Linked DNA regions of Homo sapiens. The protein of the gene in region 1 purifies or fractionates together with the protein of each later gene. This does not show direct contact. Each region holds a gene or a part of one and is shown in the gene's direction. Other genes may lie near its edges.

Region 1 (4,927 bases):
GCTGGGACTACAGGCTCATGCCACCATGCCCAGCTTATTATTATTATTTTCTGGAGATGGGGGTCTCACCGTGTGTGGGGTCTCACAGTTGGTCTTGAACTCCTGGCCTCAAGCCTTGGCCTTCCAAAGTGCTAGGATTACAGATGTGAGCCACTGCATCCAGCCTGGATGAACAAATTAAACACAAACCCTGATGTTATAGTTCTTAATTCCTTGACCTGGTAGTATCTGCATCCTAATCTTTTCCAGCGATGTTCACCAAATCACCTATATTTTTGCAGGGCCCCTCATCTGCCCTCCCCCAAGGACCTTCTTGGCAAGACACAAACCTCATAACTCCTATAAGCTGGAACAATAGGTCTCAACAGCATGTTCCTGAAACCTCAAGGTCTTTGTATTTCTGATTTCTCTTTGGACAGCTCTTCCTAAAGATATTCATATGGCCCCCTCCATCATTTCATTCTGGTTTCCTAACAATGATTCCTAAGGGAGGCCTTTCCTACCAAGTGTTCTCAGATGGTGCCCTCCCCACTTCCTCCCACTGCTTCCTATATCCTTGCCCTGCTATAGTTTTCTCTATGGACCTTATTAACATCTGACTGGCACGTTACATATTTATTTTTTAAATACTGATTTTTTTTTTTTGAGATGGAGTCTTGCTCTGTCACCCAGGCTGGAGTGCAATAGCACGATCTCGGCTCACTGCAACCTCTGCCTCCTGGGGTCAAGTGATTCTCCTGCCTCAGCCTCCTGAGTAGCTGGAATTACAGGTGCCCACCACCATGCCCAGCTATTTTTTGTATTTTTAGTAGAGATGGGGTTTCACCAGGTTGGCTAGGCCGGTCTCGAACTCCTGACCTCAGGTGATCCACCTGCCTCAGCCTACCAAAGTGCTGGGATTACAGGTGTGAGCCACCACGCTTGGCCTAAAATACTGATTCTTTATGTGATTGCTGTATGTCTCCCCCGAATGGAATCCCAGCCCCAAGAACAGTGTCTGCTGGCACAAGCAGCACTCGTGTATTTGTTGAACTCAAGTGGTTGAACAGGAGACTTTTCAATAGTCTTTAATCTAGGGTGACAGATGAGCCTCTGGGCATTCTGGGGCCCTTTGGGACAGTTCTCGGCTACTGTTCACACTGCACATGGAGGGCTTCAAAGGATCCAGGGTCTGAATCAGCCAAGAACTTAGACACAGCTTCAGTTCAGGAGAGATGTCCTCTCTCATGAACGAAGAGCTCTCGAAAATGCCTATGACTGCAACAACAACTACAAGGAGTCCTTGATCACACAGCAGGAGGCACATGCGCCCTGTGAACTTGGTGGCTGCAGTCCTTGTGATGGTGCTTTTGGCTATTTCAGAAGAGGGAAATGTAAACAAACCTGCCCTTTATCTCCACTAGTTTGAATTTACCCAATCTCCCCAATAACTAATAAAAATAACGATACACATAAATATAATTTAGTTTGTTTTTATTTCAGCAGTTGTACGTGGGTTTTTCACCTGCCCCGCATTCTGTCTCCTGATCCCCCAGTAGAGTTTTGCTAAGTATTTCCCAGCTGCTCACACCCCTTAGAAACGCGCTTGGCATGCACCCCGAGGCCCTGCTCTTCTCTCCCTGTCCCACCACTTCAGGGCTGCTGGGGAATGGGTCTCTCTGTGGGCCACAGGTGTAACCATTGTGTTTTCCTTGTCTGTGCCAGGGACACCTTGGCACTCAGATGCCTGAAGGTAGCAGCTTGTCCCTCTTTGCCTTCTCTAATTAGATATTTCTCTCTCTCTCTCCCTCTCTCCATAAAGAAAACTATGAGAGAGGGTGGGTATGAACCAAGTTTGTTTCCTTGGTTAGTTTCCTAACCAAGTTTGAGGGTATGAACATACTCTCCTTTTCCTTTTCTATAAAGCTGAGGAGAAGAGTGAGGGAGTGTGGGCAAGAGAGGTGGCTCAGGCTTTCCCTGGGCCTGATTGAACTTTAAAACTTCTCTACTAATTAAACAACACTGGGCTCTACACTTTGCTTAACCCTGGGAACTGGTCATCAGCCTTTGACCTCAGTTCCCCCTCCTGACCAGCTCTCTGCCCCACCCTGTCCTCTGGAACCTCTGCGAGATTTAGAGGAAAGAACCAGTTTTCAGGCGGATTGCCTCAGATCACACTATCTCCACTTGCCCAGCCCTGTGGAAGATTAGCGGCCATGTATTCCAATGTGATAGGAACTGTAACCTCTGGAAAAAGGTAAGAGGGGTGAGCTTTCCCCTTGCCTGCCCCTACTGGGTTTTGTGACCTCCAAAGGACTCACAGGAATGACCTCCAACACCTTTGAGAAGACCAGGCCCTCTCCCTGGTAGTTACAGTCAAAGACCTGTTTGGAAGACGTCATTTCAAGTGCTCTCCCTCCCACCCCACCTCTTGGGGTAAGGCCTTTCCTAAGCTACCCCTTGGGTCCCTAGCCTAAGAAACAAGGGGGATGTCATCCCTGGTGTAAAGATGCTGTGCAGGAAGTCAGCACTCACGGGATCCAGGGGACGCTCCAAGGGGAATCCCCAGGGCCTGCCATCCATCCGGGAAGAGAGCAAATGCTACCCATGAGGACCTCCTCACTCCCTTTTTGCTCTTTCTTCCACTCAGATCCACCCCACTCCACCCCCACCCAAATCCCAGTGACCTTTGACTAAAGGGCCAAAACTGCTTCCTTTTCTCACAATGAGAGTTGTCCCTCCCTCAATGCCACACACACTCCCTTCTTCATCTGAGTTGTCACAGGAGGCTAGAAACGGGGTGGTGGCACAACTGTCTTGGTTTTAATTTGTGCTTCATAGCCCTCCCAGGGTCCTCTCAGCCTCAAATTGCATTTCCAAATGTAGTTGAAGGACAGAGTGGGCAACCGAAGGCAGTGGAGATGGGAAGATGAATGGCAGGGTCCTCTCCTCTCTCTCTCTGCTTCTTCAGCCTGCCTTCCACATCTCCCTTGGTGCCGCTGCTTCTCTCCGGCTTTGCACCTCTGTTCTTGAAAGGGCTGCAGAACTGGACTCAGACCACGCAAGAAGGCAAGTCCCCCTCAGCTGCCCCAGCTTCCAGCCAGCCCCAGGCTTGCCCAACGGACCACGTCCGTGAATCTGCACTGGGTGCCTGTCTTTCTCTCCCAGGAGAAGATGGGAAGATCCAGTACCCACACACAGACCCCCTTGTGTACACGCAGGAACCATAAACCAGCTGGAGGCAGCCCCTGCCCCACCCTGTCTTATCTACAAAAAATATTACAAGAGACTTTATCTCTTGATTTGCTTCATCGAGTGTCCCAACTACCTCATTTTTTTAAAATGTGAAATTAGCTTCATTTACCTTCATTGAATCCATGTTGGCGACTATTAAAAATTCCAGGCAATAAAAAGGGATGAGAGCCTGAACTAAAGCAGTGGCAATAACTGGTGAAAGAGTAAAAAAACAGAACTGATTGACTCTGGGGTGAACTGATTGACTCTGGGGTTTGACTAAATGAGGAGGAGAGAGGGAGGAATCCAGGGTGATTCTCAGGTTTCTGTACGGGATTCACTGAGCCCACTCACAGGAGCAGGCCTGTGGGGGAGAATTAATTACCAGTTCAGTTTGGTCCTGTTTCCCTGAAGAACTTGTAGGAGTTCCTGGTGGAACTGTCCAGCAAATAGTCAGTCTGGAGCTCAGTGGAAGGGTTAGGGCTGGAGCTAGAGATGTAGGAATCTTCAGCACACAGATATTGCCATTGTTTTTGTTTGTTTGTTTGTTTGTTGTTGCTGTTTTGAGACACAGTCTCACTTTGTCACCCAGGTTGGAGTGCAGTGGCACAATCTCAGCTCACTGCAACCTTCGCCTCCTGGGTTCAAGTGATTCTTCTGCCTCAGCCTCCCTAGTAGCTTGGGACTACAGGTGTGCGCCACCACACCCAGCTAATTTTTGTATTTTTAGTAGAGACAGGGTTTCACCATGTTGTCCAGGCTGATCTCGAACACCCAACCTCAAGTGATCTGCATGCCTCAGCCTCCCAAAGTGCTGGGATTACAGGCGTGAGCCACCGCACCCGGCCAGATATTGCCTTTGCTCCATCCATTTCTTCTTACTTCTCTTGTGTTGCTGAAATCTCTCTGCTGCATCTATCAGAGTCCTTCCCCAAACAGTTTCTGTAGATGGCTCCCCCTACCACCCTGACTCTTCACTGGGCACTAAAGCCGATTTTTTAGGCATGCACATTCCATGTCACAAACAGGAAGCTTCTCATTCTTTTTTCTCCCAGCGTGGGGAATTGAGCACATAATACTCCAAATAACCATCAGATGATTCTAATTCCAACATGACCACGTCCAGGCAACTGAACTGTCCCCTGGCAAGAAGTCTAGGACTGAACCTGTCCCGGGCCCCTGTACTTGGTTCAAAGGATTTAGCCTTTCTCTTGGCCACACCAGGTGGGCTGGAATCCTCTGCTTTACTGGGGCAACCCTGTGGTGGGCAGTGGGGCTAGGGGTTGCAGCCTAGCTTAACTTGGCATTTTGTCTCCTTGCAGGAAGGTTTATCTTTTGTCCTTGCTGCTCATTGGCTTCTGGGACTGCGTGACCTGTCACGGGAGCCCTGTGGACATCTGCACAGCCAAGCCGCGGGACATTCCCATGAATCCCATGTGCATTTACCGCTCCCCGGAGAAGAAGGCAACTGAGGATGAGGGCTCAGAACAGAAGATCCCGGAGGCCACCAACCGGCGTGTCTGGGAACTGTCCAAGGCCAATTCCCGCTTTGCTACCACTTTCTATCAGCACCTGGCAGATTCCAAGAATGACAATGATAACATTTTCCTGTCACCCCTGAGTATCTCCACGGCTTTTGCTATGACCAAGCTGGGTGCCTGTAATGACACCCTCCAGCAACTGATGGAGGTACGACCAAAGGTCTTCTGCCCAG
Region 2 (4,664 bases), on another chromosome or scaffold:
AACAGAAATTCCGACTGTGTTTTGGTGGGGTAGTGTCATTGACATTAGAATTTGATGATAGTTAAAGAACGTCTTTCCACTAAATTGAACTTATAGTGAAAGAAACATTTTAGGCCGGGCGCAGTGGCTCACGCCTGTAATCCCAGCACTTTGGCAGGCCGAGGCGAGCGGATCACGAGGTCAGGAGATCGAGACTCATCCTGGCCAACATGGTAAAACCCCGTCTCTACTAAAAATACAAAAATTAGCTGGGCATGGCGGCGCCTGGCTGTAATCCTAGCTACTCAGGAGGCTGAGGCAGGAAAATCGCTTGAAGCTGGGAGGCGGAAGTTGCAGTGAGCCGAGATCGCGCCAATGCACTCCAGCCTGGCAACAGAGCTAGATTCCGTAAAAAAAAAAAAAAAAAAAAAATTAATTCTCAGATTTACGGTATTCACAGATCCCTGAAGCTCCTCTTTCAATCCAGTTGTAAAATACACTTAAAACTTGCCTTACAGAAAGTGATTATTGGAAAATGGAATAGTGCATCTTTGTGTGTGTGTGTGTGTGTGTGTGTGTGTGAGAGAGAGAGACAGACAGACAGACAGACAGACAGACAGAATCTCACTCCTTTGCCCAGGCTGGAGTGCAGTGGCGTGAGCTTGGCTCACTGCAACCTCCGCCTCCCGGATTCAAGCAATTCTCCCGCCTCAGCCTTTCAAGTAGCTGGGACTACAGGCGCACGCCACCACGCCTGGCTAATTTTTGCATTTTTTAGTAGAGACTGGGATTCGCCATGTTGGCCAGGCTGGTCTGGAACACCTCAGGTGATCCGCCCGTCTCGGCCTTTCAGAGTGCTGGGATTACAGGCATGAGCCACCGCGCCCGGCCGAATACTGCATCTTTTAAGCTGCCTGTCTTCAGCGTCTTCGCCCCTAAAGGATTCACCCACTGAAGGATGAAGTGACTCTCAGGCCTGCAATTGTAAAACTAAATCTGAGTGACTGGACTGGAAGACTTCGATTCTGTAATCTATATAGCCTCTGAATCAGGCTTTCATAAGCCGCGCTATGAAGTAGAATTAATTTTCTGAGTGCAAGGATTTTTTTTGTTTTTGGCAGAGGAGGTCTCACTATGTTGCCCAGGCTGGTCTCAAACTCCTGAACGCACCTTGGTCTCCCAAAGTGCTGAGATCACCGACCACCGCACCCGACAGAATGAGTCTGGTAAAAATCTTCATGCTTTAGATCCCTGAAACTTGGATGTACTTGTTAGCTCCAAGCTGAAGCCTTAGCTAAGGGATTTGGCCATTAGCTGAGCAACATAAAGTCCTCCCCGATCTTCTAACTCCTTTTGAATTAAATTAGAAAGCCATGACAAAACGATCGTTTTGTTGAAGGCCCACTCCGTGTACACGGAGTAGGCACTGAACACACAGTTTGCTTCAGGACATGGAAAGTCTCTCAGGAGTCCGTTCCTGCGCGGGCCCCACCTACGGGCTTCGAGCTTCCACGTGCAGGGCCTCTGGCTCCGCCCCCGGCGCAGTGCGCAAGCGCCGCTGCTTTCCGAGCTGCCTGCTCACTGTGCGCACCTCGCTGGGGGGTGCTGCTGTGTTCCTGAGGCTTCCAGGGAAGGCAGTGGGCGAAGGTCTGTACCGTGCTAAGATTGAGTCTGAGGAACTGACTGAGCAAAGAAGACAGCTCAAGGTTTGTGGGGAATGTGGCAGATGAGGAGAGGAGGGTTAGCAGCTAGTTTGGTGTGAGGTAAATTAAAATTAAGGAGTGAAGAATGTTAATTATGGGGAGTCTCAGACGCTACTCTTCTGGCTCGGAGCTTCCCGATTAAATTTATTTTTAAAAATAATAAATTTTTTAAAAATGTTAATTATCATTGATTCAGGGACTCTGGGGCCAAAGGTGGGCCTCCGAGGGCCAGGGCAGCCGACTCTACAGGTGAAATGTTTAGCTTTCCTCAGATGCGCGGGTTCCCGCGCTTTCGCTCTCCCTCTGCCCCCGCTGAGCCCCACGGAGCTGGCCCTGCGTCCTTGTTTGCAGCTGAGGAGAAACTCGCTGCTCTGAGGCAGCGAGAGGAGAGAGCGCCACAACTTGGTGGTGGCCTCCGCCTCGCCCTGGCTCCCTGGAGGCGCAGTTTGTAGTCAGCAGAAGGCAGCGCGGAGCAGCCGCGTTGCGCAGGGCGCGTGGGGATCTTCGTGGTGCGTGGGGATATCCGCGGGGGCGGGGAGGGGGCGGGAGCCCCGCCGCCCCGGGACCGCAACTCGGGACTCCTGTGGGACTCGCGACCCTGGAGCGCTAGGGCGGGGAACGCCGCCCGGGTGACTGGCAGTCCGCGCGCCTCATTCTCCCCTGCAGAGCCCGCGCTCGGACCATGCCCGCCTGCGCCGGCTGTCTCGCTGCAGGAGCCGGTGGACGCGGGGGAGCCTCGGTAGGTGAGGGCGGCGCGGGGGTAGCTGGGCTCCGACGCGGGCGCCTGAGGGGAGCGTCCCCCGACTGCAGGAGGACTGGCGCGCCCGGGATGCGGTGCCGCGTGTCCCGGCGCTGTGGCTGTTGTAAGGCTGAGTGGAGGTTTTGCAGGGCTGCTTCGCCCTGGTGGCTCTTGGCTTCCTGGCTCGGCTCAGTGAAGGGAGTGAAACCCCTCGGGTCCCGGCGTGGTGCGGGTGCAGGAAGAGACTCCTGCCTCAGTTTCGTGTGAGCCGCGTCCCAAGCCCAGCCCTGCACAGATCCTTTCAGGCAGTTTCCATCCTCTCCGCGCTCGGGGTTGAGTTTCCGCGTTTGGAATGCTCGGTTTGAGGCGCATGGCCACCGCGCTGGCTGTGTCGGGAGACAGTGCCCAGGGATGATGTTCGAGAAAGTGGAGAGGCTGAGGTCGCTGGCAACTCGGAGACTTTGAAGATACCACGGTTCCCTTCAAGTTTAAAAATGGTGAGCTCTAAGTGCAGTGTGAAGCACCCCAACGCCCTAAGTGCACTGATTGCTTTTGGGGGTGATGGGTGAATATGGGGCTGTTTCAAAGTATGAAGTAGAAGTGATACCATTATTCGCTTTTTTTATTTTTGAATTTCCTTTTTGACGACTATGTGTGTTGGTGGAGAAGGAAGAGAAGTGATACAAGCTTTGGCGAGCGCTGTGGCTCAACGCCTGTAGTCCTAGCATTTTGGGAGGCCAAGGCGGGCGGATCGCATGAGCCCAGGAGTTCGAAACCAGCCTGGGCAACATGGGGAAATCCCGTCTCTACAAAAAATAATAATAATAGTAGTAGTAATAATACAAAAAATACGAAAATTAGCTGATGTGTTGCCACGCGCCTGTAATCTCAACTATTCGGGAGGCTGAGGCAGGAGAATCGCTTGAGTCTGGGAGTTTGAGGCTGCAGTGAGCTGAGATTGCACCACTGCACTCCAGCCCGGGCGACAGAGCGAGACTCTGTCTCAAAAAAATAAAAATAAAGTGGTACAAGCTTTAATTAAAATGTCGTTGAGTTCACATTGAGAAAATGGTTAAATTTATTGAATATTTTTAAAAGATTTTAAGGTTCATCCAAAATATATCATCGCTGCTTGAAAGGGAGAGTTCGTTTTAACAGTTGAAGTTAAGGGAACTGGAGGAGTGAAATCAGTATTTAGAGATACGTTTAATGCTTTGTTATTGCCCACTTTCTTAAAGGCCTTTAATTAAAAAACAAAACATAGATCTTTCTTTACCTTATTGCAAAGATATTTTAAAATCTGAACCCTACCTAATCATAAAGATGTCAAAATTTGAGGGAGAGTGCTTAAGCATCAAAACCCATGTATGTTTTCTTTTTTAAATAAATTATTTGGATGAGTGCCAAATAATGCCATGTAATCCTAGGACTTTGGGAGGCCAAGGTGGGAGATTGCTTGAGGCCAGGAGTTCAAGACCAGCCTGGGGCAACATAGTCCCCGTCTCTACCAAAAAAAAAAAAAAAAAAAAAAAGGCCAGGCGTGGTGGTGCAAGCCTTTGGTCCCCAGCTATTTGGGATGCTAAAATGGGAAGATTGCTTGAGCCCGGGTGGTCAAGGCTGCAGGAAACCGTGATCACATCATTGCAGTCCTGGGCAACAGAGTCAGACTCTATGAATTCTGTAAAAGAATTCATGGAACTAGGCAAACATAAGAAATTACCCGTAGGAGTCTTATTGGCCAGTGGGAAGAAAGCATAAGAACTTCCACTGGCACTTTTTGAAATTTTAATCCTAGCAGCTAGTGATAATTTCCGCTTTAGTATATGGCTTTAGTATGTTAAAAAATGTTTTACAAAATCAGTGAAGTATAATTATATTGCTTTTACTCAATTTCAGGAGATCCGAAGGTCACTTTTTCTCCCAGCACACCTACTAGTGTACTTGAGCACTTTAAAGTTTTTTTTTTTTTATTGTACCGAAGGATGATATACTGTACTGGATTACAAAATTTCTTCAAGTTAGAGAAAACAATCATGATTTTCACAGTACCCAAAAATTTTGGAAAATTGGCAGTTTTAATTTTTGGTAAATGTACTGCTTTGGTCTGCTTTTGCTATGTTCCTATTTCTCATTTATTTCAAAATAGCTTGGCTTCATGAAGGATGATAGAGGGGATTTGAAGTGCCTACATGTTATCCTGTTAGGTCTAATGGAATCTCATTAAATCTCCAGCCCCTGAATGT
Region 3 (4,159 bases), on another chromosome or scaffold:
TTTTTCCTGTTTGTTTGAACAAAAGAATTATTTTTCTCTTAAATTTGGTAATCTATAATATAAAAGTTATGAGAGTGGAGGCTTTTTTGCTTGGTCATTAATTTAGCAGAATTGCTTGCAGCAAACTCTTATTTAAAGATTTTGGTTTTTATAAATATAAATGTTTTATTTTTAAATGTAGGAAGATATTGATGCAGAATCTTCGTTTTCATTAAATATGAACTTTAGCAGTAAAAGAACAAAATTTAAAATTACTACATCAATGCAGAAAGACACACCACAAGTAAGTGCTTTTAATGTCAAGTTTTTTTTGAGGGGGAAACATTTAAGCATTGGACTTTACAAGTGTTTACATTGAGATTGTGCAAAACTTTGCACAGCAAAATTAATAATGGGATATGTCTTTTCTGGTTTGTTGTTGGCATTTATTAACCTTACAGTCAAACAGAAATCTCTACTTGTATTTTAGTTTTTTCTAAGGAAAAGGGTATGGTTTTGTTGTATTTGCTCTTAAACCATTAGAATGTGTAACTATGCATTCTCTCCGAAAATTCCCACATTGAGAAGTAATAAAATTTCATATTTTTCATTTGTAAAATAAGGGAAAGTTCTCCAGTTCATTTTTTTTTTTTTTTTTGAGACGGAGTCTTGCTCTCTCGCCCAGGCTGGAGTGCAGTGGTGTGATCTCGGCTCACTGCAAGCTCTGCCTCCCGGGTTCACGCCATTCTCCTGCCTCAGCCTCCTGAGTAGCTGGGACTACAGGCGCCCACCACTATGCCTGGCTAATTTTGTTTTTTGTACTTTTAGTATAGACGGGGTTTCACTGTGTTAGCCAGGGTGGTCTCGATCTCCTGACATCGTGATCCGCCCGCCTCAGCCTGCCAAAGTGCTGGGATTACAGGTGTGAACCACCGCGCCTGGCCTACAGCTCATTTCTTTCAAAGAAAATTTGTCAGTAGAAAATGCTTCTTAAACTTTCATATGCAAATGAGCCACCTGGGCATCTTGTTCAAATGCAGATTGTGATCTAGTGGGTGTGGAGTGAGGTACTGACAGGCCAGTGTGAGGAGGGGACTTCTGCTCTTCATTATTTTAACTCAGCAGTGATTGTTGCTTTGGTCTGGGATAGACTGTTTCTATCACTTATGCTTCCTGATTGCCTCCGGTGTGCAGTCCTTGGGCTGATGCAGGATGTGAAGATAATATAAGATGTTAGACCCTCTCCAGAAACTTAATTCCCGATGGGGGGAGACAAATATTAACTGCCATTTACTTTGAAACCTAAAATGGTCAAGATTCCATTTTCCTCCAGGCTAATAAATAATAATTTGCAATATATAGATTGTATTTTGTCTTTGAAACGCTGTGAGGAGATCCTCTTAATGTGGCATGGTCTGCTTCTATGCCTTGCTTCTGTGTTTCTTGAGCTCCGTGGAGATAGGCCCCCTCTCCTGGCTTCTCTGCTTGAGCCACATAAAATGCCACTTCACAGCTCTTCCCTTTGAAGCCTGATCCAGTATGCATTTGGAGCTAATTACTGCAGTTGACACAACTCCATCTAAAAGCGTCATGAAAGATTCTGTAATCACTGATAAGAAAATGATCTTGCAAATTATTGCTGTGTCCTCCTTTATTGCCTCTTTACCTTAACAGTACAGTTTACAATAATGTAAATTTTTTTCTAATCTTTCAACTTTAACCCTAGAAATTGTAGATGTTTTAGCAGTGGTTATGTGATATTGGCACAACATAACTATATAATTTGCTCAATATTGTGGTGCATACCTGTAATCCCAGCTGCTCAGGAGTCTGAGGCATGAGAATCACATGAACCCAGGAGATGGAGGTTGCGGTGAGCTGAGAGCGAGTCACTGAACTCCAGCCAGGACGACAGAGTGAAACCCTGTCTCAAAAAAAAAAAAAAAAAAGTATTTGCACTCACTGATAAAATGAATTGAAAACAAGTTCAGTGACTTAATGTCTTGTTGGGTCTTTTTTCTTTTCTTCTGTAAAACAGGAAATGGAGCAGACTAGAAGTGCAGTTGATGAGGACCGGAAAATGTATCTCCAAGCTGCTATAGTTCGTATCATGAAAGCACGAAAAGTGCTTCGGCACAATGCCCTTATTCAAGAGGTAAAAGGAGGGCAGTCCTCAGGGCTTCTTAGGGTAGAGGGCATTGTCATTGTACAGATTCAGTCTCTTTCTTCTTAAAGAGGATACAGAAATAACCTGATCCTCAGATAGCATAAAGAAATGTTTCATACTTAATCAGAATCGTACTCACTCACAATTTCAGTATTAAATTCAGATTTGCAGGCTGGGCACAGTGGCTCATGCCTGTAATCCTTTTTGTTGTTGTTGTTGAGACAGAGTCTTGCTCTGTCGCCCAGGCTGGAGTACAGTGGCGTGATCTTGGCTCACTGCAACCTCTGCCTCCCAGGTTCAAGTGAGTCTCCTGCCTCAGCCTCCCGAGTAGTTGGGAATACAGGCGTGCACCACCATACTTGGCTAATTTTTGTATTTTTCGTAGAGACAGGGTTTCACCATGTTGGCCAGGCTGGTCTCGAACTCCTGACCTCAGGTGATCCACCTGCCTCGGCCTCCAAAAGTGCTGGGGTTACAGGTGTGAGCCACCATGCCCAGTGGACACCTGTAATCTGAATGTCTTGTTAGGCCAAGACAGGAGGATCACTTGAGTCCAGGAGTTTCAGACCAGCCTGGGCAACACAGGGAGACCCCATCTCACCTAAAAAAAAAAAAAAAAAAAAATTAAAAAATTAAAAAATTAGCCAGTTGTGGCGGCACACTTGTAGTACCAACTACTTGGGAGGCTGAGGCGGGAGGATTGCTTGAGCCCAGGGATTGAGCCTGTGTGACACAGTGAGATGCTATCTCAAATGATAATAATAAATTCATATTTGCTTTGGCTTTATTTTAGAGGTCTAAAACTTGCTGATTCATTGAGTCTTCTGTCCAGTTATTGAAGGAAATTGACCCATCAGATATTCATTCATTCCATAACTATCTGAGCCTACCATGTGATAGACAGCTGGGCTGGTCCCTGGGATATAGCACAGAGCAGCTGAAGATATGGCAGGCTTTTTTGGAGTTCACAGTTTAATGGGGGAAGAAATACACTATTGAAATGATATGCAAATAAATGTAAAATTACATTAGCATGCACTGAAGGAAACGTATACAGTACTATGAGAATGTATTTAAATATCCTGGCCTAGGGGCTGCTGGGGAAAACTTTCTTGAGAAAGTGTTTGAACTAAGAGCTGAGAGTTGAGTTAAATAGAAGCTTGGGGTTGTGTGTGAGTACTTAGGTTAATTAGTTTATTGTTTCACTTAATTATGTATCATTATTAGATTTTGCTGTATCCATTTTCCACATTGTAGTTCCTATTTTCATACTTAATTTGGCCCATTTGTTGAAACCTCAGTACATTTGAGGCACTTTAAACTGATTGGTTAAAAGTCATTACTTAATAGCTGAAGAACTGGCAGTAGTTTGACTTCCACATCTCTTCCACAGGTGATTAGCCAGTCAAGAGCTAGGTTTAATCCCAGTATCAGCATGATTAAGAAGTGTATTGAAGTTCTGATAGACAAACAATACATAGAACGCAGCCAGGCGTCGGCAGATGAATACAGCTACGTCGCGTGATGTCGCTCTCCTCCAGCGTGGTGTGAGAAGATCATTGCCATCACCATTTGGTGTGTTCCTGTGGGAAAAAGCAGGACTGTGCCTCCATAATTTGGTCATTTGGCAGCCCCTGTTTTCTGCTGTTTACAACATCACCAGTGCCACGTCATGAGCGTCAAAGAAAATGCCTAGAGATATTTCAAGCTCATGTCATTATGACATTTCTTAAAACTTTATTAAAAGAATGAGTGAAGTATTGCTGAAAAGTGGAAATTCGGTTGGGTACCATGCTTTTTCTCCCCTTCACGTTTGCAGTTGATGTGTCTTTTTTTTTTTTTTTAATGTATCTTAAAGGACATAAAATTTAAAAACTTAAATATTGTAATATGACAGATAACCTAATAATTGTATCTACATTAAAATGACAAACATGATACTGCTGCTTGTCAAATAAAAAAAAAATAAAGAAATAGAATGCCTTTTTTATGTGGATGGAGTATCAGGTTGAC
Region 4 (3,022 bases), on another chromosome or scaffold:
GAGGCAGGAGAATCGCTTGAACCCAGGAGGCGGAGGTTGCAGTGAGCCGAGATCACGCCACTGCACAGATAAGACTCCATCAAAAAAAAAAAAAAAAAAGGCGCTAATTACTTAAAATCATGCACAGAGGTCCAAGTTATGGGCTGTTTGGAAAAGTTCATGAAAAGAAATCCCCAAAGTGAAATGAGTTATTACTGTGAAATCAGATAAGAATTCAGTTTATTTTCCTTTAATGGAATCTACACTTTACTAGCTTGGAGCATTATAAGGAGAAATTAGAGCTATATTGACATTAAATTCTAAAACAACAGCTTTAATGTATATAATGGCATGAATTTAATAGGAGGAAAATCCAATTTAGTACTTTGTGTTTGACATTTTATTTAAGGAGTTCAGGTGGGGAGAAAATGCAATCTTCATATTACTTCACATTGCTTAGTAGAGGCAAAAAGCGAATGATGCCATGGTTATTTATGAAAAGGCCCTAAAAGAATGTCTTGGGGAGGGTCAGGCAACCAGAGGGAAACAGGCTTGGGAATGCTAACTTTCTCTGTGGTTAACACAGCCTTTTTCGGGGTCCGTTTACTCTGACCTTCCTCCTGCTTTCAGTTCTGGGAGATGATTGGTGAGGAACACGGGATCGACTTGGCTGGGAGCGACCGCGGGGCCTCGGCCTTGCAGCTGGAGAGAATCAGCGTGTACTACAACGAAGCCTACGGTAGGACTGGCGGGGCTCTGGGAGCAGTGGTCCCGCAACTGGGAACACAAGCAGAGGAAGGGCAGAGGCCCAGGAGATGGAAATGTCAAAGCAGTGATGTCTATGCTCAGGGAGGCGACAGGCAGGGCAGCAGGATCCTAGAGTGGTGGGTCCCCAAGCCCTGGTCAAGACGCAGGAATGGGGAAGGAGCTGCTGGATATGGCACACACCTTAACACAAGCAGGTTAAGTACTCACTTTCCTTTGTGGTTTCACAAATGAAACCAGGATCATTTCCAATATGAAGGAAGAGAATCTCTGTCACTGGCAATATCACAGAGCAGACTGATGGAGATTGTTTCTGGGTATTCTATAGATTTGTGGGATTGTTGTTGGGGTAAAAAATATGATGTTAGATACTCAAATCTCGACCTACCAAGGGCCCCTTTCTAGAATATCCATGATTTTTTTTGGACCAGTATCACAAAGTTCTATTTTGATAAAACATTAACTTTTAGAAAAACAAGTAGGCTGACTTTTTCCTATTTTTCTACACAGGTAGGAAATATGTGCCCCGAGCAGTCTTGGTGGACCTAGAACCTGGGACGATGGACAGCATTCGATCTAGCAAATTAGGAGCTCTCTTTCAACCCGACAGTTTTGTCCATGGTATGTTTTTCCAGAAGGTTCCACCAGGAGGAGGGGGGGATGCTTTACTGGTGCCCTTCTCTTTTCACCTTTCTTCCCCTGCTGGTTTCTCTTTTTGGCCACAGGTAACTCTGGGGCTGGCAACAACTGGGCCAAAGGCCACTACACGGAGGGAGCCGAGCTGATCGAGAATGTCCTAGAGGTGGTGAGGCACGAGAGTGAGAGCTGTGACTGCCTGCAGGGCTTCCAGATCGTCCACTCCCTGGGCGGGGGCACAGGCTCCGGGATGGGCACTCTGCTCATGAACAAGATTAGAGAGGAGTACCCGGACCGGATCATGAATTCCTTCAGCGTCATGCCTTCTCCCAAGGTGTCGGACACTGTGGTGGAGCCCTACAACGCGGTTCTGTCTATCCACCAGCTGATTGAGAATGCAGATGCCTGTTTCTGCATTGACAATGAGGCCCTCTATGACATCTGCTTCCGTACCCTGAAGCTGACGACACCCACCTATGGGGATCTCAACCACCTAGTGTCCTTGACCATGAGCGGCATAACCACCTCCCTCCGGTTCCCGGGTCAGCTCAACGCAGACCTGCGCAAGCTGGCGGTGAACATGGTCCCCTTCCCCCGCCTGCACTTCTTTATGCCCGGCTTTGCCCCACTCACGGCCCAGGGCAGCCAGCAGTACCGAGCCCTCTCCGTGGCCGAGCTCACCCAGCAGATGTTCGATGCCCGCAATACCATGGCTGCCTGTGACCTCCGCCGTGGCCGCTACCTCACAGTGGCCTGCATTTTCCGGGGCAAGATGTCCACCAAGGAAGTGGACCAGCAACTGCTCTCCGTGCAGACCAGGAACAGCAGCTGCTTTGTGGAGTGGATTCCCAACAACGTCAAGGTGGCTGTCTGCGACATCCCGCCCCGGGGGCTGAGCATGGCCGCCACCTTCATTGGCAACAACACGGCCATCCAAGAGATCTTTAATAGGGTCTCTGAGCATTTCTCAGCCATGTTCAAAAGGAAAGCTTTTGTGCACTGGTACACCAGCGAAGGGATGGACATAAACGAATTTGGGGAAGCTGAAAATAACATCCATGATTTGGTATCCGAGTACCAACAATTTCAAGATGCCAAAGCAGTTCTAGAGGAAGATGAAGAGGTCACGGAGGAGGCAGAAATGGAGCCAGAAGATAAGGGACATTAACTGTGAGAGAAGCTGTGCCGCGGAGTCGCTTACAGAACAGTTTCTCATTAGATGAGTGTTTCTCCTGCAGCACTCCAAAACCCACTCTGCACTGCAGCACAGTGAATGATATGCACTCACCATTAGCTTCGACACAGGGACTGAGGGAGACAGGTGGGGAGCAGCTGACAGGCATTAGGGTCTTTGCTGACATCTACTAACCTTGAAGAGTTTGATGTTCAGTGCATACTTATTAACTTAAAAAAATAGCAAATTTATTGTAAAGTGCTCCCTTTGTTTCAAAGTGTTTGCCAGGCATCCAGACTACACGTGTGGATTTGCAGGGAGCCACTGGAGTTGGTGTTACATTTTTATACTTTAGCAGCACTGATAGGCACCCTGGAATCCTCACTTGGTATCCGAGGGCTACTAAGACTCTTTCCTTAGGTTCTTTCCTCTGAGCAAACACTGACTGGCATCCTGCTTTCCAGTGCC
Region 5 (4,159 bases), on another chromosome or scaffold:
TTTTCTTTTGCAGCACAAAGAATGAACCAGCAGTGGAAGAGAAAATACTGTAAGCTGGCTGACTGCTGGTGAAGAAAATGCTTTATTTTTGTGGCAGGCATCTGTGGGATCTGTAATAGAAATGTAAGTGTAGCATCATGGTTTTTTTCAGTGCTGCAGTAAATTAAATGGATTGGTTTAACGTGTGGTAAATTGAGTATCTGTCATATGTAGTTTTAATTATATTAAATGAGCATTTTCTTTTGACTTATAGGTGCTTTATTAACAATTTATTTACATTAAGTTATCGTTAATGTAGATTTCCAAGTCTCCTCAAAAGGAAAAGTCTCTATAAGAAAAACTGAAGACACAGGAGTTTGCTCAAAGAATGCTGAAATAGATCTCCAGGTCCTCTGGGTTCTACCTTCTTTTTACATAATAATTTTCTTAAATAACTAAGCTAGGCAAGTAGTACTAGCTTTTGTAAATAAGACAGACTACTAGGTTATAAAAACTCTAGTTACTAAAAACTTGTTTCACTAAATTAAAGGAATTTCTACATAATTGATTTTTTTAATGTAATAATACATCACTGCATTTTATTCATATCACTTCACTCTGATCCCCAGTTTTACTAGTTGTGCTTTCATCATTTATCTTTGCATGATATGCTTTAAAGTGTTACACACTACCTTGGATTTGTCCATATTTAACTTCACCGTATTGATGAAACATTTTTCACTATGAATATATTTCTGTTTTCTAAATTCATATAAGCCCTATGCAACTTGATGTCATTCATGAAAAATGTAGTGAATATTTTATTGACTTTTAATTACAGTGTTTTTCTTATTAGAGCAAGAGTGACCTTGGTAGATGCTATTTCACATTTTCCCAGTTTGACATAAAACTCTTGCTTTCTACTCTTCCAGTATGATACTGGTTACATGTAATGATATGTATTAACAATAATTAATTTATTATTAAAAGTATGACCATATTATTTTTATTCAGTATTGAAAATTTGATAATTGAAAAATGATACTAATAAGCATTTGTCTTTAAAAATATATATTTTATTTAATCCTGTCCATTTATCTATCTGTATACATTTTTTAAAATCTTAATAGGTCAGATAGTCTAGGTGCTGGTCATCAAGGAACTTACTGTGATCCAGTAAATGAGACATGTATGTAATTAACAAACAGTGGAATAGATGCCATATTAAGGTAACAATCAGATGCTATTGAAACTGAACAGAGGAAGAGATTAATTTCATCTGAAGGGTTCAGAATGAACAGAATAAGTTTCACCTTGCCTTCAAAGAATGAGTAGAATTTTAACAGTCAAAGAAAATTAGGAAATATTTTTCAAGCCAAGGGAATGAGGAGGGAAACAGCTGCCTAATCATCAACACATTTTAGAGGAGTCAGGGAACAGTAATATGTGGGAAGGCAGGGTAGGAGAAAGAGACTTCAAAATAAGTGCAGGGAGTGAACATTTATTTAGTACTTACTATATTACCAGATTTTACATTTATTTAACATACAATCAATCTTAATTGATTTTGATACTTAGGGACAGAGTATATTGATCAGTCTTGGAGGAGTTAGGGGACAGTACTTACTAGATGTTGAGGGGTTAGCTTTGTAAACAAGTAGCAGTACCCCATATTGAGCCAGGAGGAATAATGATAAGACAGTAAAGGTAAAGATAGATTTTCAGGATTTATTTTTGACTTACCTAATTTCTCAGTGATACAGGTGTTAGTATATCGATAAACTAGGAGGGAGAAGTTTTATGATAGTCTCTGGGGAATAGGGAAAGAAAGATGTCTTGGCCGAGTAAAAGTTTACTGGGATTGATGGTGTTTAGGAAATCAAAATAGCTATTAAGTGTGTGGGGTTCACAACTTTTGCACCACACAAAAGTGAATTGTATGGTGAAATTTTTGTCACTTAGAGTAACTTGCTTGATTATTCTTTTTTGCGAATGTCTCCCTTGTTGGCTTTTGTGGTGGTGGTCTATCTTTATTTCCTGTTCTTCTCTGACCATTCCTTACACCCCTTCCTGGCTATTTTACCTCACAGATATTGGAGTAATTCAAGATTCTGTGGTTGGCCCTTTTGACTGCTCTCTCTACAGGTTTAATTTGGGCATTTACTCATTTTCATGGCTCCAAGGACCATGTATGTGTTGGTGAGTCACCAGACTTTTTTCAGCTCAGATTTATTCTTGGAGTATCAAACTAGTAAATTCAGCTGTCATCTACCTATCTCCACCTGGAGACCTTAATAAAGTCATTATGTCTGAGACAGAACTCTCCTCAAATTCTGAATTTTGGTGAATGTGTCACCATCCATCAGTAATCAAATGCTTTCATTTCTTTTTCCTTAGCATTCTTCTATTCTATTGTTGGAAACTTACATCAGCAACCTCCCTCTAATTATCTTATACTTGCATTACTACCTGGATATTCTAGTTTCCCTTTCGCCATACCTCCTCCTGCATTACCAAACTTTCCTCCAACCTGCTGTTCAAATGGTCTGGAAGCTACTAAACTGGCTGTTATTTCCTGACGTAAAACCTTTCAGTGAACTCCTCTTGTCTCATTAGTGGTTCATATGTGGACCAGCTTCATAGAAATCCTTAAGCCCCTTGAAATTATATGTAGGATTGTTCCCTTTTTGTGTGTCTGTAATTGGATTCTAAATTCAGACTTTAAAAATCTGATTTTTAATATTTGGAGTTTTTATTGCAAGCTAAAAATTTCTTGAATACTACACATACTAAAGATCTTTTTTGCTTATAATAATTTTGCCTTTCATTTGACTAGTTGTCCAAGAAGTTTCAAGGAAATCTGAGTTCTTGGAGATTTCCACTAACTCTGCCCATACCCCTCTATATTTTGTCTTCTTGAGAAGAAGACTTAGTATTAATAGACTCTTATTAGTCTGGCAGAAATATTTCACATGGTTTATCTATTGGAAGAAGGGGATTTATACTTAAAAGTTGGAATATCACATGAAGAATTCAGTAAAAACGTCTTTGAAAGTAAATGATGTATTATACTTATTAATAGAATTGGACTAACGTCACTCCAAATTTCTGTGTATTAAATTCTTAGTTTAGTAAACTGGAAATAAATTCCCTTTTTCAAAATTAGAATTTTCTGAGACATTTATGAGATAGGGAATACCTCTTTTGATTAGCATTAATACTTGCTCTACACAAAGGGAGGGGAAAAGCTTTCTTATTTACATATTGGTATGATCATCTGCATACATTTAGTCTCCCACCTATTTTAAGATCATTGGAACTGCAAAACAGAGACTGTGTAGGGTAGATTAAAATGGTTTTTTAAAAAGCCTTGAAGTATGTCTTATAGGTAGACTAGCAGTTTGGGGTTACTTTGTGTCTATCTTGTTACACATTTTATCTCTATCTTACTTATTGCATGTGCCTCATTCAGAATTAAATAAGAAATATCACTAAGTTTTTCTGCCCATTTGTTAGTTGGTGATAGACTAACAGTATACTTGATGGGCTAAACAGAATCAGAATTTATAAATTGCTATGGCAAATTGATAGTTAAGAGTGCTTCAGATGAAATAATGACCATTTAGCTGTCTGGTGTCCATTGTTTGCAGATTAACTTTGTCCAACTTCACTTCATTCTGATGATGGAACCAAAATACCTGCACAAACAGGATTGTTTTGCCTTTCCAATTATGTTATTATAATTCATGCCTTCTCCTGGGATGATTGTAATTGCTTTCTTAGTTTTGAAATTATGTGTTTTGGTTTATTCATAAATGCAAGAGTAAGAGTCATGCAAAATATTAATCATATTAAGTAGGGTGGAGGATAATGTTTTTAGGTTGGAAACTTTTTTTTCTGTAGATAAACGAGCTGTATGTGATGGAAAACTGACTTCTTGGGCCCATTTTACTTAAAGCAAATACAATAGGTTTGGAATTATGTATTTAAAAGCATGGCATTGGTCCACGTGACATGTTGGGTGTCTTGTTTTCATTTTACCAGACTCTGTTTTTATTTATGTTTTCAGTTTATGATCCTGTCCTTTGTTCATAAGGTACTTAGATGGTTTAAGATGTAGACTTCTTATATGAAGATGTTGCTGTTGTTTTTCCAAAGTAATGGTGGTCATCAGCCCATT
Region 6 (4,159 bases), on another chromosome or scaffold:
TATCTAATATCCTGAAAGCCTCAGAGAACCTGTCGAGGATTTTGAGCAGGAGCGTGATTAGATCAACTGTGTACTTTTACAAGTGCAGTAGTATATATTTGAAAGTAATATGCAGTCTATAAAGGAATTCCAGTGGTATCTAACTGGATTTCTTTTTACAGTCTTTGTCATTATTCAGATCTCTCGTGGAGTCTGACCCCTTTGGTGTAGGCTGTCTCCCTAAGGGAAAGTGGTTGAGTCTTATGCTTTTCAGCAGCCTGAGATCCCCAGGGCAGGCATCATTACTGCTGGCTAGATGAAAGAAGGAGACTTGCCCCCACCTCTGGCTCCAGCAAGTCCAAAGCCAGAGGCCACACAGAGAGAAGGGCATTTCACGCAGTCACTACCAATCCCCACAGCAGTCATGTCTTCTTGCAGACCCCGTGCCTATTGAGCTCAGCTAGACAGGCCTCTGTGGCTGTGATTTTGGGTCCCAGGCCTCTGAAGACTGTGCATCATATTTTTCAAACTAATGAGGTTCCTTAAACAGTGTGGCATTGCCACTTCATGTCTCCTCATTTCCCTGTCGGGTAGGAACATCTGCTAGGGTCCTGGGAAAGGCAATTAGCAAATTAGAGTTTTTGTTTTCTTGCTCAGCCATGATTGAAGCCCCAGAGCAGATCCTTCTGGATAATGTCATTAAGCATCCCCATCCAAGCATGACGTAGGAAATTAAGTTTGGTTTTGGGGAAAAGTGACGGAGGCATCCTTTGGCGTTCTTCAGGATGCTGGCTGCTTACTGGGTTGAGAGATGATGGTATTCCTGTCAGGAAGATGGATCCTGTTGTATGTCCCATGTGCCTGGCCCAGTGCTGCATGCTGTAGTGGAGATGAGGAGAGGAGAAATGTGCTAAGTGCCCACTCCCTCTGGCTGGAGAGAGAAGGCAGGGATGAGCCCGACTTGGCCACTGCTGTGTCCCTTGCTCTCAGCTGCACAGTGCCTGGCACTGTGTTCACTAAGCATTTTTTGAACGAATAAATGAGGGTTGGAAGCAGGGAAGGATGCAAAGCAGTAGCTAATAAAGGAGTAGACTGGATACAGCCAAGAGTCAGCTGCTCAGGAGTGAGAGTCCAACTATGATAGTGGCATTACTGGGCTTCATGTCCCCATATCCTGACTTTAGCCCTGGCCCTTTCTCTGCTTCATCCTCTGAAAAACAGCAGAGCATGAGCCCTCCCTGAAGCCCAGCACAACCTCTCCACAGTCCATATGTGTGTTCTGCCCCATGTTCAAAGTACCAGGCTTGTGTCTTGCATGGAGGGAGTAGTGCAGTGGCTGGGGGCACAGAAGTGCTGGTGAAAGTTTCCTGCCATCAGAGGAATGCCCTCAAGGTAGAAAAAAGCAGATCAGTAAGGCCTGAAAGATGTCCCCCTGGCTGGCTCAAGGGTGGACAGAGGTACAGGGCAGGCCCCAGGAGGCCTACTGGATCAGGGCAGGCTTCCTAGAGGAGGTGGAGCTCACCCTCATGGACTAATTATCTCTCAAAGGCTCCACCTCCAAATACTATCACACTGGGGCTTTGTGTTAGGCCATTTTTGCATTGCTATAAAGAAATACCTAAGACTGAGTAATTTATAATGAAAAGAAGTTTAGTTGGCTCACGGTTCTGCAGGCTTTACAGGAAGCACGGTGCTGGCATCTGCTTGGCTTCTAGAGAGGCCTCAGGAAGCTTACAGTCATGGCAGAAGGTGAAGGAGGAGAAGGCATGTCACATGGTGAAAACAAGAGCAAGAGGCGGGGGTGGGGAGGTGTCACACACTTTTAAATGAGCAGATATCTCTCCAGAACTCAGTCACTATCCCTAAGACAGCACCAAGCCATGACAGACTCACCCCCATGACCCAGACAGCTCCCACCAGGCCTCACCTCCAGCACTGAGGATTACAACTCAACATGAGATTTGAGCAGGGACAAATATCCAACCTATATTAGGCTTCAACATGTGAATTTGGGGAGGACACAATCAGTTCATAGCCAGGCACATTCAAGTGGTGAAATGGCAATGTTGGAACACATCCACAATTTAAAAGAGCACTCACCACTTACTGGAAGCCCTGTGATGTGCCAGACTTTACAGGTGTCTGCTCTGATACTTGCAAAAGCAGGTGAGGTTAGCACATAGTTAGCAGCACTTCCAACCAGTCTCAGAGAGATTAAGTTCTGGCCTAGGGTCCAACAGACAGGTGGGGATTCACATCTAGGTCTCCTGTCCTTCATTAGATTGCCCAGCTGCTAGTTTCCCTTAACGGCTTATCATTCATGGACATGAGCACTCTGCTGTGCGCCCTGTACTGGGGGAGCAGCAAAGGGGCTGTCTATTTACTTGCCCACCTTGTCACACCACAGTGTGAGCACTCTTCAGGATCTCTGCCTGCCTCTAGTAGGGACAGAGACTTTGAGACTATGATTGCAAAGGAGAGCACTGGGCCCTCAATGACCCAGTATGGGCCAAGCCAAGTACTAGTAAGAGGTCTTCCCTGGGGCTGCTGTTTGGCTGTTGCTTTCAAACATGTTTAAGTGTCTTTTCAGCAACAGCAACTCCACAGTTGGCATGGTTGTGTGCAAGGATAAAGCAGTTTCCCTTAGAAATTTTCTGTGTGGGCCACACAGAGCTGGTTACAGTCATTGCTGTGGAGAGGGCATTATTCTAAACAACATGGAGGAAGAAGTAAGAGCACAGGCTTGTCATATGGTAACTCTGGGGTTGATCCCAGTCCTGCCACTTCCTGGCTGTGTGACCCCAGGTTATGCAAGTTATGCAACCTCTCTGAGCCCGGGCTGCTATTGCAAAGAGTGCTGCGTATGTATGCAGTATGTATGCATGTGCTGTGTACATAGGTAGTTTTGTGCATTTGAGAACATATCTGAATAAATGCTGGAAGTAGAATTGCTAGGTCAAAGGGTCTGTATATTTGCAATTCTGAAAGATGGTGTTAATTTGCCATTTGCCGAGGCTAAACCAGTTTATATCCACTTTAGCAATGTATGAGTCTGTCTTCTGTTCCACACATTCTCCAAGCATGCGTTATCCATTTTTTTGACCTTTAATAAGCTGATAGACAAAAATGGCATTTCAATGGAGTTCTAACTCATTTCTTTTTCAGTATACATTGAGTATCTTTTCAAAGGAACCATTTGTTTTTGTGTAAACTGTTGATATCTTTTCATATTTTGTACTTGTATTCATTTGTAGGAGTTTGACATATATTTGTTGGTAATTTGTGTTGCAAATTTTTTCTTATGTTAAAACAAGTCTAACTTCTTTTACAAGTGCTTTCAGCTACACCGTTTTGTTATTTCCCATTTTCATTTCTTGTTTTACATATTTCTGTCTTCTCCCCCATTAAATGATTATATGGTTTATGTTTTATGTGTTTTTAAAAATTTAGTTACTTATGCATTTAAAGTATATTTAGTGATATGTGAAAATGCAAATTACATAATTTTTAGGTGAAATAATCTAAATAAAGGCCCATTATACCAATTTTTAAAAAGAAAATTCATTATAATTTATAGACCAAAAAAAAAGAGAGAATAAAGCAAAATTCCTCCAAAAGCTGACAATGTTTATATCTGGTTAATGAGATAGGAGAAAGAGGTGAATTCTAGTTTTTGTCCTTTTTTTGTATTCTCTAAAATTTAGACATTTATTTAACCTTTTCTAATTAATGAGCTTTATTTCTTCAGAATAGTTTTAGATTTAAAGAAAAACTAAACAGATAGTACAGAGAGGTCCCATATGCTCACTCCATTTATCACCCTAGTTTCCCCAATTATTAGCATCTTACATTAGTATGGCACATTTATCACAACTAATGAACCAGTATTGATACATTATTATTAACTTATTTTAATAATTAATATTAATAATTGTTATTAACATATTTTTTCAGATTTCCTTTTTTTCTCAGATTTCAGTTTTTACCTAATATCCTTTTTCTTCTCTTTCTTTCTTTTTCTTTCCTTTTCTTTCTTTCTTTTTTTTTTTTTTTGAGATGGAGTCTCCCTCTGTCACCCAAGCTGGAGTGCAGTGGCACGATCTTGGCTTACTGCAACCTCCACCTCCTGGGTTAAAGCAGTCCTCCCACCTCAGCCTCCAAAGTAGCTGGGACTACAGGC
Region 7 (4,159 bases), on another chromosome or scaffold:
TCCACGGAGACCCACCCTCTAAGACCAGAGCCAGTGTCCTATTCATCTTTTGTCTCTGCAGCGTTCAGCATGGCACTGTCTTGGCTTACAAAATCTGCTCTATGCTTGCTGACTGCTGAATGAATGAATGAATGAATAGGTAGTCACAAAGAATGTTTAGAATGTTTCTCAGACAGGCTGAGAAAAAACACAACGAAACATTATTTCCGTTTGGAAAGTTTTTTTATTTTTGTGTTCAGTACTGAAGTAAAACAAAAATCTGAATAACAGCTGCACCGTTAAAAATGAAATTACCAATATATGAACTCTAGGCATCATGCATATATAATTTTTTGTAGATAACTTTTCTTCTCATTTTCCTTCTCATTCTCTTCATCTTTTTCTTTTTGTTTGAGCAAAAAAAAAAAAGAATATATTAACTCGTAACTGGGGAGTCTAAGAATAAATTCTCTTCAGCCATTGCTGAATCTAGGGGCTCAAATGGTGTCTCTGGACACAGTATCACACTCTACTCTGCACTCTTCTTTATCATTTTCTCCCACAGACAGACTCTCGTGTAGTTGCAACAATGGCCATGACTTCTAGGCTTCATCTGCCCCTCTCAGCAGCTCTAGAGAAGAAGCTCCTCTTTTTACACAGTCCCTAATTAAAGTCTCAGAGATGAACAACCTGGGCTCTTGCTTAGGGCACGTGCCCATCCTGAATCAATGATCGGCCAGAGAGCTGTGATATTCTTTTGTTTTTTTGAGATGGAGTCTTGCTCTGTCGCCCGGGCAGGAGTGCAATGGCATGATCTCGGCTCACTGCAAGCTCTGCCTCCCGAGTTCAAGCGATTCTCCTGCCTCAGCCTTCCGAGTAGCTGGGACTACAGGCACGTGCCACCACGCCCAGCTAATTTTTTGTATTTTTATAGAGACAGGGTTTCACCATGTTAGCCAGGATGGCCTCGATCTCCTGACCTCATGATCTGCCTGCCTCAGCCTCCCAAAGTGCTGGGATTACAGGCGTGAGCCACCGTACCCGGCCAGGGCTGTGATATTCTGATCAGCCAGCACTGAGTCACATGGCCACTATTAGGGTGAGGGATGATAGGCTTAGCTCTGACCTGAAATTCATGGATTGAGGGGTGGGGACTGTTTCCCAGGGGAACACTGGGACAGCGTTACCAGGGGAAGGGGAGTGGGATATAGTTGGGCCAAAACAGTAAATGTCCACGAGGCTTTTTTCCTCTGAGCAGAAATTTCACTGTGATGCCAGTCAGGTATTGCTGCCGTAAGGGCCATAGCAGGAGGGAGACTGCAAATCTTGATTGAGGAGATCTTAAGAACAGAGTGATTTACACAGCTGTGGGCAGGATGTAGGGGAACCCAGAAAGGATAATGCACTACCCAGCGGCCAGCGACAGCAGGAGCTATGAGCACCCCAGGCCTGAAGGTGTGAAGGGCTGAAATGGTTACCAGAAGCAGGAGAGGGAAGCTTATGGAGAGAGCAGGCTGGCGGGAGCAGGGGCTGTGAGAGAGACAGCCAGACCGTAGCGGTGTGACAGGCAGAGAGCCAGGCGATCCATATCCTGTCTCCTCTCTCTTCTCCGCTCCTGACTCCTGCTGCGGCCTCCCACTGGCTGGACCCAACAGGAAAGCAGAGGATAAGAGAATCTGGTTGGTGCTATCTAGAAGTCAGTGTTGGGGAGGTCACAGAACAGAATGGAGAGGGGTAGAGTATGCAGGGAAGATAAATGCAGCCCTGGCATGGTTCTTCCAGAACATTCTGCAAGCTCATGGACCAGTTCATTTGAGAAGAAATAGAGGAGTTAGGGGAGAGAGAAGCTTCTTAATGAAAATAACCTTGGTAGCTAGTCTCAAGATTAGCCCCCAGTGCTCCCCACCTGCTGGTATCCGTTGTACAACACTTCCCACATTTTTCTGGGGTCGTTTTGTGTAACCAATAAAATATGGCAGATGCGATGGCATGTTACTTCTGAAATTGGGTTATAAAAGGTACTGCAGACCGGGCACGGTGGCTTACGCCTGTAATCCCAGCACTTTGGGAGGCCAAGCCTGGCGGATCACAAGGTTAGGAGTTCAAGACCAGTCTGGCCAATATGGTGAAACCCTGTCTCTATTGAAAATACAAAAATTAGCCGGCATGGTGGCACACGCCTGTAGTCCCAGCTAGTCGGGAGGCTGAGGCAGAAGAATCGCTTGAACCCGGGAGGCGGAGGTTACAATGAGCTGAGATAGCACCACTGCACTCCAGTCTGGGCAACAGAGCGACACTCCGTCTCCAAAAAAAAAAGATACTGCAGCTTCTATCTTGGTTGCTCACTTGCTATCTTGGGTCCCTCCCTCTGGGGAAAGCCAGTTGCCATCTCCCAAGGATCCCTATGGACAGACCCATTTGGCAAGGAACAGCCACCAGCTAGCTGCATGAGCGAGCCATGTTGGAAGTGGGTCCTCCAGCTGCAGTCAAGCTTCCAGATGACCACTGCCCTGGGAAACGACTGCAACCTCATGAGAGACCCTGAGCCGGAACCACCCCACAAAGTCACTCTTGATTTCCTAAGTCTCAGAAACTATAAAATATAAATGTGTGTTGTTTTAAAATCCTAGGTTTTGAGGTAATTTATTATACAGCAATAGAAAACTAATACAATAGTCTTGCTACCAGCACCTTAATCTCCCACATCCAAGTTAAAATTCATCCAACACTCAATCTCCCAGCTATCCTGACTGCTCCTATACAGGTATCTCTCCCACTATATATATATCAAGTGCTATTAGTGGCTATTATTTGTTGGGTTACACAAAGCCAGAAATCATCTACATCTACTCTCTTTTCTTCTGGTTTTGAATAGCAAAATGCAACAGGGAGATGTTCTCAGATAGAGGGAGAACAACAAAAAGAAGGGTCCATGCTGAACAAACTTGTTTGCTTTGAAATCGGAAGTTCTAGAGGAGGTATTCTGACAGTGGCCAGGAAAACCTCCTGCCCGCAGAATTTTGTCTAATCCACCCCAGACAGAGTTATCCAACAGCCTGGTATGGTGCAGACCAGGGGCTCTCGAAAGGTGGGCTCCAGGCAGCAGCACCAGTAGCACCTGGGAAATTGTTGGAAATGCAAATTCTTGGGCTCCACCCCAGATCAACTTAATCGGACTCTCTGGGAGTAGGGCCCATCAATCTGTGTTTAACAAGTCCTCCAGGTGATTCCGATCCTAATCAAGTGTGAGCCCACTGTCTAATGCGGTGCATACCAAAGCAGGTGCACGGGTCTTAATCATCACCTCAGTCCTCTGAAACAGGCAAGTGTGTCCATTTTACAGAAGAAGGAACTAAGGCCTGGAAGGCAAGTCCTTGCCTGAGACTAAACAGAATCCCAGCAACATAGGACGAGGCTGGAATTCCCACACCTGGACTAATGCACAGCCAGTGTTTCAACGTCGCCAACCCAGAAATGTTTTCTCTCCCTGTCATGCTAATTTTCAGCCCTTTCTGGGTGACTTGTTCATCATCCAAATATATTATTTTTGTTTTGTTTGACTAAAGGCAATTATATTTACATTTTCTCTAAGTACTGGAATGTAATGGTTGAAATTCCTATTCAGTGATCTGGAAGAACTCTAATGTTCTAAAGTGATTCTTTGATAATTAAAGAAAGATGTAATTATGTATAATGTGATTTGTAAGATAAGGTATAACTTTGGGGGTGTTCTAATTCTTTAAAAATTGTTGATCCGACTATGGATGTCTTGCAACTCTCAAAAAATCACGTGTGAAAGTTAAGCATTAGTTCCGTGTAAAATACTGTGCTAGAAATTGTGGAGGATGCAAAGTCACATAAGACTGTTACTGTTTTTTAAAATTTATTTTTTAAAATAGAGACAGGGTTTCTCCATATTGGCCAGGCTGAATCTCAAGTGATCTGCCTGCTTTGGCCTCCCAAAGTGTTGGGATTACAGGCGTGAGCCACTGCGCCCGGCCAAGACTGTTACCTTTAGCGAGAGCTTATTATCACCTAGTGTTCATATAAACATGGGATTTAAATACACACACAACCCCCAAAACAAATTGCTAAAAGATATTTGTGCAGATTTTATTTTTCCAAATGGCTACAACAGTATTTGAAGAACTAACAAGTTTAAAAATGTAAAAGGCCAGTA

What was found.
Region 2: the proteins of SERPINC1 (region 1) and TEX15 purify together in Homo sapiens (affinity purification with mass spectrometry, with the first as the bait; 3 studies listed by BioGRID). This does not show direct contact.
Region 3: the proteins of SERPINC1 (region 1) and CUL2 purify together in Homo sapiens (affinity purification with western blotting; one study listed by BioGRID). This does not show direct contact.
Region 4: the proteins of SERPINC1 (region 1) and TUBB1 purify together in Homo sapiens (affinity purification with mass spectrometry; 3 studies listed by BioGRID and IntAct, with this or other methods). This does not show direct contact.
Region 5: the proteins of SERPINC1 (region 1) and RNF146 purify together in Homo sapiens (co-immunoprecipitation; one large-scale study listed by IntAct). This does not show direct contact.
Region 6: the proteins of SERPINC1 (region 1) and SPSB4 purify together in Homo sapiens (co-immunoprecipitation; one large-scale study listed by IntAct). This does not show direct contact.
Region 7: the proteins of SERPINC1 (region 1) and BTD purify together in Homo sapiens (affinity purification with mass spectrometry; 3 studies listed by BioGRID and IntAct, with this or other methods). This does not show direct contact.

The regions. Positions count from the first base shown.
Region 1 is NC_000001.11:173,914,528-173,919,454, reverse strand, and holds the start of SERPINC1 (antithrombin-III isoform 1 precursor), read left to right. Parts: upstream 1-2,127; 5' UTR 2,128-2,195; coding exon 2,196-2,236; intron 2,237-2,514; exon of another isoform or gene 2,515-2,950; coding exon of another isoform or gene 2,951-3,048; intron 3,049-4,268; exon of another isoform or gene 4,269-4,437; intron 4,438-4,535; coding exon 4,536-4,902; intron 4,903-4,927. UniProt on the Homo sapiens protein: Most important serine protease inhibitor in plasma that regulates the blood coagulation cascade. AT-III inhibits thrombin, matriptase-3/TMPRSS7, as well as factors IXa, Xa and XIa. Its inhibitory activity is greatly enhanced in the presence of heparin.
Region 2 is NC_000008.11:30,909,900-30,914,563, reverse strand, and holds the start of TEX15 (testis-expressed protein 15), read left to right. Parts: upstream 1-1,555; 5' UTR 1,556-1,685; intron 1,686-4,664.
Region 3 is NC_000010.11:35,009,823-35,013,981, reverse strand, and holds part of CUL2 (cullin-2), read left to right. Parts: intron 1-181; coding exon 182-283; intron 284-2,017; coding exon 2,018-2,134; intron 2,135-3,539; coding exon 3,540-3,671; 3' UTR 3,672-4,159.
Region 4 is NC_000020.11:59,022,236-59,025,257, forward strand, and holds part of TUBB1 (tubulin beta-1 chain), read left to right. Parts: intron 1-609; coding exon 610-718; intron 719-1,254; coding exon 1,255-1,365; intron 1,366-1,469; coding exon 1,470-2,548; 3' UTR 2,549-3,022. UniProt on the Homo sapiens protein: Tubulin is the major constituent of microtubules, a cylinder consisting of laterally associated linear protofilaments composed of alpha- and beta-tubulin heterodimers.
Region 5 is NC_000006.12:127,280,218-127,284,376, forward strand, and holds part of RNF146 (E3 ubiquitin-protein ligase RNF146), read left to right. Parts: intron 1-13; 5' UTR 14-121; coding exon 122-123; intron 124-298; exon of another isoform or gene 299-4,159. UniProt on the Homo sapiens protein: E3 ubiquitin-protein ligase that specifically binds poly-ADP-ribosylated (PARsylated) proteins and mediates their ubiquitination and subsequent degradation. May regulate many important biological processes, such as cell survival and DNA damage response.
Region 6 is NC_000003.12:141,057,722-141,061,880, forward strand, and holds part of SPSB4 (SPRY domain-containing SOCS box protein 4), read left to right. Parts: intron 1-4,159. UniProt on the Homo sapiens protein: Substrate recognition component of a SCF-like ECS (Elongin BC-CUL2/5-SOCS-box protein) E3 ubiquitin-protein ligase complex which mediates the ubiquitination and subsequent proteasomal degradation of target proteins.
Region 7 is NC_000003.12:15,650,042-15,654,200, forward strand, and holds the end of BTD (biotinidase isoform 1 precursor), read left to right. Parts: 3' UTR 1-3,673; downstream 3,674-4,159. UniProt on the Homo sapiens protein: Catalytic release of biotin from biocytin, the product of biotin-dependent carboxylases degradation.